Homo sapiens: one gene and its partner. The protein of the gene in region 1 purifies or fractionates together with the protein of each later gene. This does not show direct contact. Each region holds a gene or a part of one and is shown on either strand. Other genes may lie near its edges.

What was found. Proteins that work in one complex are often made in the same cells at the same time.
Region 2: the proteins of KIAA1143 (region 1) and GPATCH1 purify together in Homo sapiens (affinity purification with mass spectrometry; 2 studies listed by BioGRID and IntAct, with this or other methods). This does not show direct contact.

The regions. Positions count from the first base shown.
Region 1 is NC_000003.12:44,754,973-44,758,624, forward strand, and holds part of KIAA1143 (uncharacterized protein KIAA1143), read right to left. Parts: intron 1-3,652.
Region 2 is NC_000019.10:33,087,643-33,091,294, forward strand, and holds part of GPATCH1 (G patch domain-containing protein 1), read left to right. Parts: intron 1-491; coding exon 492-626; intron 627-3,137; coding exon 3,138-3,223; intron 3,224-3,652.

The sequences.
Region 1 (3,652 bases):
TACAGAGAATAACATAACAGAAACCATGTACTCCCTGTATATGTGTAACAGATGGTAATATTTTGCCAGTTGATTCAGATTTTTGAAATGTGAGACACCGTAAGAGCCCCACTCCCACAACTTAACTCAAAAAATATCTTTGTACAGTACTTTAAGATATAGAATTATCTGATTTTTAAAAAATCACTGCCTTGCATTTAATTACATATATGGTCACCTCAAGATTTATTTGACCAGCATCTTGTAAATACAAATTTTGCTCGTTTCCAGATTTTTTTCTACTATGAAAAAACCTCATGCACCCATTTTTGCTCACTTTTGGGAACTTGTATGCAAGAACTTTTAATGTTAACAGTTCACTAGAGGTGGAACTGTTGGGTTGAAAGGTATGCATACCAAAATATGTTTTCATATGTTATTCAAACACAATCACTCATTACTCCACTTCTCATAGAGACTTCCTGGTCTCCCAAACAAGGCGACAAAGCCCTGCAAGAATTAGCCTCAGCCCATAACCACAGCTTTATCCTGTACCACTCTCTCATGGCATCTAGACTCTGGCATGGCAAGGTTTGAGTACTTGGAGATTTATAAATATATTAGCTCCTTTGCTTCCCCTGTCTCTGAACAAATTCCTACGGCTTATTAAGCCCCACAGCCCCTGAGCAACTCCTACTCAAGCTGCCTTCCAGATTTAGAGCCTCTAGAAGTGCTTACCTAAATCTCACCTTCTCTTGTTTCTTACACTGTGCATAGCTCATAGGTAGCATGTATTGCACTGTGGTACCAATGTTTTTCTGCTGGTTTCCACTGGGCAAGTGCCTTCTGGAGAGGCACAAAGCCTGGAAAACAGCAGGGACTTCCAGAAATATTTGTTGATCTACTCATGAATGACCAACAGAATGGAAAATGATGAACTACATGAAGCCCTGGCAAGTTGCTTGTGCCATTTTAACTATAACTCAAGTTCTCAAGTCTGCTCTATCACTGCACAAGTACATTCTCTTTAATGGTATCTATGTTAGTTCACTGATTATTCATCAGTTTCTGCCAATTTTTCTCTGAAAGTCTCCAATAAATGACCACAAATAGGTAGTAAGTATTTTTAGCCAAAAATATGGGAAAGTGAAATAAAATCATTCCTTTTGTTTGTTAAATTGAGAATAATTAATTCTGACTCTCTTCTCTTTTTTTCTTTTTAAATGTGACTGCCTGGAAAACAAGAGAAATAGTCTAAGGACAGTGGCAGTAGCCACTGATGACTGTTCAGAGACATTTCTGAATTAACTCTCAAGAAAGTGAATAGGGCCAGGCGCAGTGGCTCATGCCTGTAATCCCAGCACTCTGGGAGGCCTAGGCAGGCAGATCACTTGAGGTCAGCAGTTCAAGACTAGCCTGGCAAACATGGTGAAACCCCCCGTCTCTACTAAAAATACAGAAATTACCTCGGTGTGGTGGTGGGCACCTGTAATCCCACCTACTTGGGTGGCTGAGGCAGGAGAATTGCTTGAACCCAAAAGGTGGAGGTTGCAGTGAGCTGAGATCGAGTCACTGCATTTCAGCCTAAGCAACAGAGAAAGACTCCGCCTCAAAAAAAATAAAAGTGAATAGGATGATTTAGCTTAATTATGGAATGATTTCCCATGAAACTCATTTCTTTTTGTTAATAGATGACTAAAATCCTGACTGCAGTAGTCCCCTCCTTATCCTCAATTTCATGTTCCACAATTTCAGTTACCTGTGGTCAACTGTAGTATGAAAGAAGGGTGAGTACAGTACAATAAAATATTTAGAGACAGCAAGCAAACAAGCAAATTCACACAACTTTTACTAGAGTATATTGTTATGATTGTTCTATTATTAGTTACTAATCTGCTGATATTCCTAATTTATATAGTAAACTTCATCATAGGTATATATGTATGGGAAAAAACATAGTATATATAGAATTCAGTATTATCCACTGGGGGTCTTGGAACATAATGGGGGAATACTGTATATTGCCAAACTGATTAAAAATGAAGTGGTTCTCACACTGAAACATGGCGTACTTCTCTAAGGGAAATTCCCTTGAGTACATAAATAAGCGAAAATCACTGATATTACTTGGAAAGGATTCCCGAAGTTCTCTTAAGATAGCATTCCAAGCTGTAACCTTCAAGCTGTCAACTGTGCATACAGGGTCATCACCAGGACCTCAAGCAAGGTAAAGCTGGGTCTCATCTTCTCCTCATCGCTCAATCTATGTCCCTTTTCTCAAACCTTACCCTCTTTGTCATCATCCCTATTTTTAGTCATGGGGATCAGTCATTCCCTGTGTTACCTCTAAGAAAAAAATGGCTCCCTGTTGCTTACTAAATAGTCCACATGGCCTCACCTCCACTAGCCCCTCTAACACTTCTACATACAGTCCATGACTCTCAAATCTCTACACCTTTACCCATGCCATTCTCTTCATCTCTACCTGCTGACCTAACCATGCTCGAGAGTCTATCTAAATATCCCTCCTCCACGAAGTCTAACCTGATAACAGCACAGTCACCAACAAATACAACTGTTACCCACTACTTCGTGCCAGGCACTGTGCTAGGTGCTGGGAAAATACGGAAGGATTAAGATACTAACTTAAAGAGTTCAATCTAGTGGTGAAGATAAACAGGAAAGCAAGTAGTTGCAATATAAAATGAATGTTATAGATAAGATATGGATAAGGTAAAGAGAAAAACAGAAAGAGTAACTGTTTGGAGAGCTTTGAAGGGTTTCGGAGAGATGGTAACTTGTGAAAATAGGGCAGGAAGTGTTAAAGAACATGGCATTTTGGAGATCCATCTCTTCGTCCTTTCAGAGCCTGCGACAGTGCATGGGGTTAGCACATACTCATTCTACTGGCATACCTTGAAGATACCGCAGATTTGGTTCCAGACCACCACAACAAAGCAAGTATCAAAATAAATTGTCACACAAATTTTCTGGTTTCCCAGTTCACATAAAAGTTATGTTCACACTATACACTAACTACAGTTAGTATTAAGTATGCAATATCATTATGTCTAAAAAAATCTAGATCCCATTAAGTACACGATTCATGGGAGGAGGCAAAATATCAACATTAACAGGAGTCTGGAAGATGTACCTACCTTAATTTAAAAATACTTTATTGCTAAAAACATTAAAAATCATCTGAGCCTTCAGTGAGTCCTAATCTTTTTGCCAGTGAAGGGTCTGCCCTTGATGCTGATGGATGTTGACTGATGAGGGTGGTGGTTGCTGAAAGGCGGGGTGGCTGTGGCAATTTTTAAAAATAAGACGATGAAGTTTGCTGCATTGAGTCTTCCTTTCACAAAAGATTTCTCTTTTGTGATGCTGCAATGCTGTTTCATAGCATTTTACCCACAGCTGAACTCCTTTCAAAATTGGAATCAGTCCTCTTAAACCTGCTGCTGCTTTACCAAGTAAGTTTATTCTAAATCCTTTATTGACATTTCAACAATGTTCACAGCATCTTCACCAGAAGTAGATTCCATCTCAATAAACCACTTTTTTTGCTCATCAATAAGAAGCAACTCATCTGTTCAATTTTTATGAGACTGCAACAACTTAGTCACATTTTCAGGCTCTACTTCTAATTCTAGTTCTTTTGCTTGTTCTACCA
Region 2 (3,652 bases), on another chromosome or scaffold:
AGATTTCAGTTTCATCTGTCGGAACTCTCCTGACATTATAATTTTTTTTTTTTTTTTTGGGGGAGAAGTCTCGCTGTGTCTCCCATGCTGGAGTGCAGTGGTGTGATCTCGGCTCACTGCAACCTCCACCTCTCGGGTTCAAGCGATTCTCCTGCCTCAGCCTCCTAAGTAGCTGGGATTACAGACGTCTGCCACCACGCCCGGTTAATTTTTGTATTTGTTAGTAGAGCCGGGATTTTGCCATGTTGACCAGGTTTTGTAATGGAATTTAGTGGGAAAAGAGGGCAATCATTATTACATAAGCTTATAAAATATATTGTTTTCTAGGCTATATAAAGCAGTAAAGTCTAGGAATAACAATTTAAATGATTATATTTGAATTATAAGAAGTAAACAATTTATGATATTTAAAAAGTGACATTTTCCCTAAATTTGAACCGACCATCTCCTCTCTTTTTCATTTAAAAAACTTTTTTTTTTTTTTTTTTTAGGTGAAAGACCAAAGAAACCAATCCCTCTTCAGGATCAGACTGTCAGAGATGAAAAAGGAAGGTATAAACGATTCCACGGGGCCTTTAGTGGAGGTTTCTCTGCTGGATACTTCAATACTGTTGGCTCAAAAGAAGGTATCATTTTCCTAATTGTAGCTATTATACCATTAAAGCAAATGATCAAAATATTGATTCTCCCTCACCCTTGCTTTTTTTTTTTTTAATTTTGAGACAAGAGTCTCGCTCTGTCGCCCAGGCTGGAGTGCTGTTGTGTGATCTTGGCTTACTGCAACCTCCGCCTCCTGGATTAAGCGATTCTCCTGCCTCAGCCTTCCAATTAGCTGGGATAACAGGCGCATGCCACTATGCCTGGCTAATTTAAAAAAAAATACTTTTAGTAGAGACAGGAGTTTCACCATGTTGGCCAGGCTGGTCTCAAAGTCTTGACCTTGAGTGATCTGCCCACCTTGGCCTCCAAAAGTGCTGGGATTGCAGGTGTGAGCCACTGCACCCGGCCACCTTTGCTTTTTTTTTTTTTTTTGCGATGGAGTCTTGCACTGTTGCCCAGGCTGGAGGGCAGTGGTGTGATCTTGGCTCACTGCAACCTCCGCCTCCCGGGTTCAAGCGATTCTCCTGCCTCAGCCTCCCAAGTAGGTGGAATTACAGGCGCCTGCCACCATGCCCAGCTAATTTTTTTTGTGTTTATAGAGACAGGGTTTCACTATGTTGGCCAGTGTGGTCTCTAACTCCTGGCCTCAAGTGATCCGCCTGTCTTGGCCTCCCAAAGTGCTGGGATTACAGGTGTGAGCCACTGCGCTCAGCTTTCTCTGAACATACACTGTAACCTCTTGTGTTCTTTGGATATTTGGATGTTTCCAGAGTCAACTTGTATCTTGTTCATTGATTGCAACCTTATGGTTAAAGAGTTTTCTTTCACTTTGTAAAAAAATGCATACCTCCTAATCAGATGATTAAATGATAATAATGACTTTGGTTTTTATTGTGTCTTGCCATTCACGAAATACTCTTAAACAGAGTCTTTCAGTTAATCATTGACTGTCTCTCGTGACTGAGTGAGTGAGGAGGGCAGGTGTCACAGGGATCTTGCAGATGATGCCACCAAGGGTCAGAGAGGTTAAGGAGCCAGCATGGCGTTAGTGCTGAGGGAAGAGTCACCAGGTGCCCTCTTCAGACACTGGGGACCACAGCAAGACTGGCTCCTCAGTGCTCTCTACCTGGGGAAAAGTCAGTTAAATCTTTTATGTTATGTACTTTTATAAATGCCAAGTTGTTTAAAGTATTGTATGTTTTAAGATATATTAATCTAGAAGCATTTTTTTGAACTGGAAGAAATGGCTTTCTATATCTCAGTTATGAATGGAAGATGAACTGATTTTATTATATGTGCTGCCATAGTGAGCACGGAAGATGAACTGATTAATTCACATAGCAATTATCAAGAAAAAGATGGGCTAGATCTTTTATAATTTTTTTTTTTTTTTCCTGAGATGTAGTCTCACTCTGTCGCCCAGGCTGGAGTGCAATGGCATGACCTCGGCTCACTTCAACCTCCGCCTCCTGGGTTCAAGCAATTCTCCTGCCTCAGCCTCCCGAGTAGCTAGGACTACAGGTGCCCGCCACCACACCCGGCTGATTTTTGTATTTTAGTAGAGATGGGGTTTCACCATGTTGTTCAGGCTGGTCTCGAACTCCTGACCTCAAGTGTTCCACCCGCCTCAGCTTCCCCAAGTGCTGGGATTACAGGCGTGAGCCACCATGCCCGGCCTTACCATTTTATTTAATTAATTGATTTATTTTTTGAGACAGGGTCTCACTCTGTCGCCCAGGCTTTAGTGCAGTGGTGCACCTACTGAGAGTAGACCTTCCCCAGATGCCTCAGCTCACAGGGCCCTTGGAGAGAATCAGGAAGGAGGTGCAACCCTCTTAGAGAAAACTAAACAACTTTATGTGCAGAGGTTACAGACATATGTGACCTCCAGAGCATTCCCTGTTTGTGGACGTGGCACATGCTCGGTAACCGTGGTCAGGGAACAAGGCCATTGGTTACAGGATTCCAGTGTCTGTTGAAACTGGGGGACTGGCAGAGCCGCTGCCCTTGGACCTGCCAGGTTGAGTCTTTGGTCAGGGTACTGTGAATGTTGCCTGGATTCCTTCTGTTACTCTCTCTTTATCCACTCTGACTGATTAAAACACCTTGACATCATATCTTTACACTTGATCTTAGCCAAAAGGCCTAGAAGCGATGACATCATTTCTTTAGATATGTTAATATGCCAGTGGAGGTTGCTGGTCTCACGTCCTGCATTTTAAGGTGACCTTGCATCTGTCAGCTCAGATCTGCTTGTGTTCATTTCACAGTTTAACTTTCAATGTGTAATTCTATATCTCTTGGTTTCACTTTCTTATGGGGAAACCTTAATGTATCCACTAAGTTTTACATCAGGGGATACAGGGATTAATAAGAAATTTATGTGGAATAATTACGTCTATATAAGCACTGAGATGGGAAGTAGCTAAGAGTTTATAGTTATTGGGAATTTCAAGTCCATACATGTTATTTAATCATTTACTCATAGACCCAAATACTCTCTAGGATTGTAAAGTTCTAAACTCTTTTTTTTTCAGGATGGACACCCTCTACCTTTGTGTCTTCACGACAGAACAGAGCAGACAAATCTGTTCTTGGTCCTGAAGATTTTATGGATGAAGAGGTGCGTGTGCAAAACTTTAATTGCCAATTAGCTGGTGGGACAGGTCTAGTTGGTTGCTGTAACTGCCTTCTCTCTCCCCAGAAGGTCCAATGTACGATTTCCTCTTTGTTTGTAAGGCTTTATCTTTTAGGTATTTGATGTGCAGTGTCCTGTACATCAGTAGAGTCTTGTTCATTGGAGGAGCATTTTATACTGGGGCCAATTTCTAAAATCAAGAGTGTAAGGGGAAAGTCATATACAGGCAATTTACTTGAAAAGCCTCGTGGCTGGGTGCGGTGGCTCACGCCTGTAATCCCAGCACTTTGGGAGGCCGAGACAGGCGGATCACGAGGTCAGGAGATCAAGACCATCCTGGCTAACACGGTGAAACCCCGTCTCTACTAAACAAAATACAAAAAATTAGCCGGGTGTGGTGGCGGGTGCCTGTAG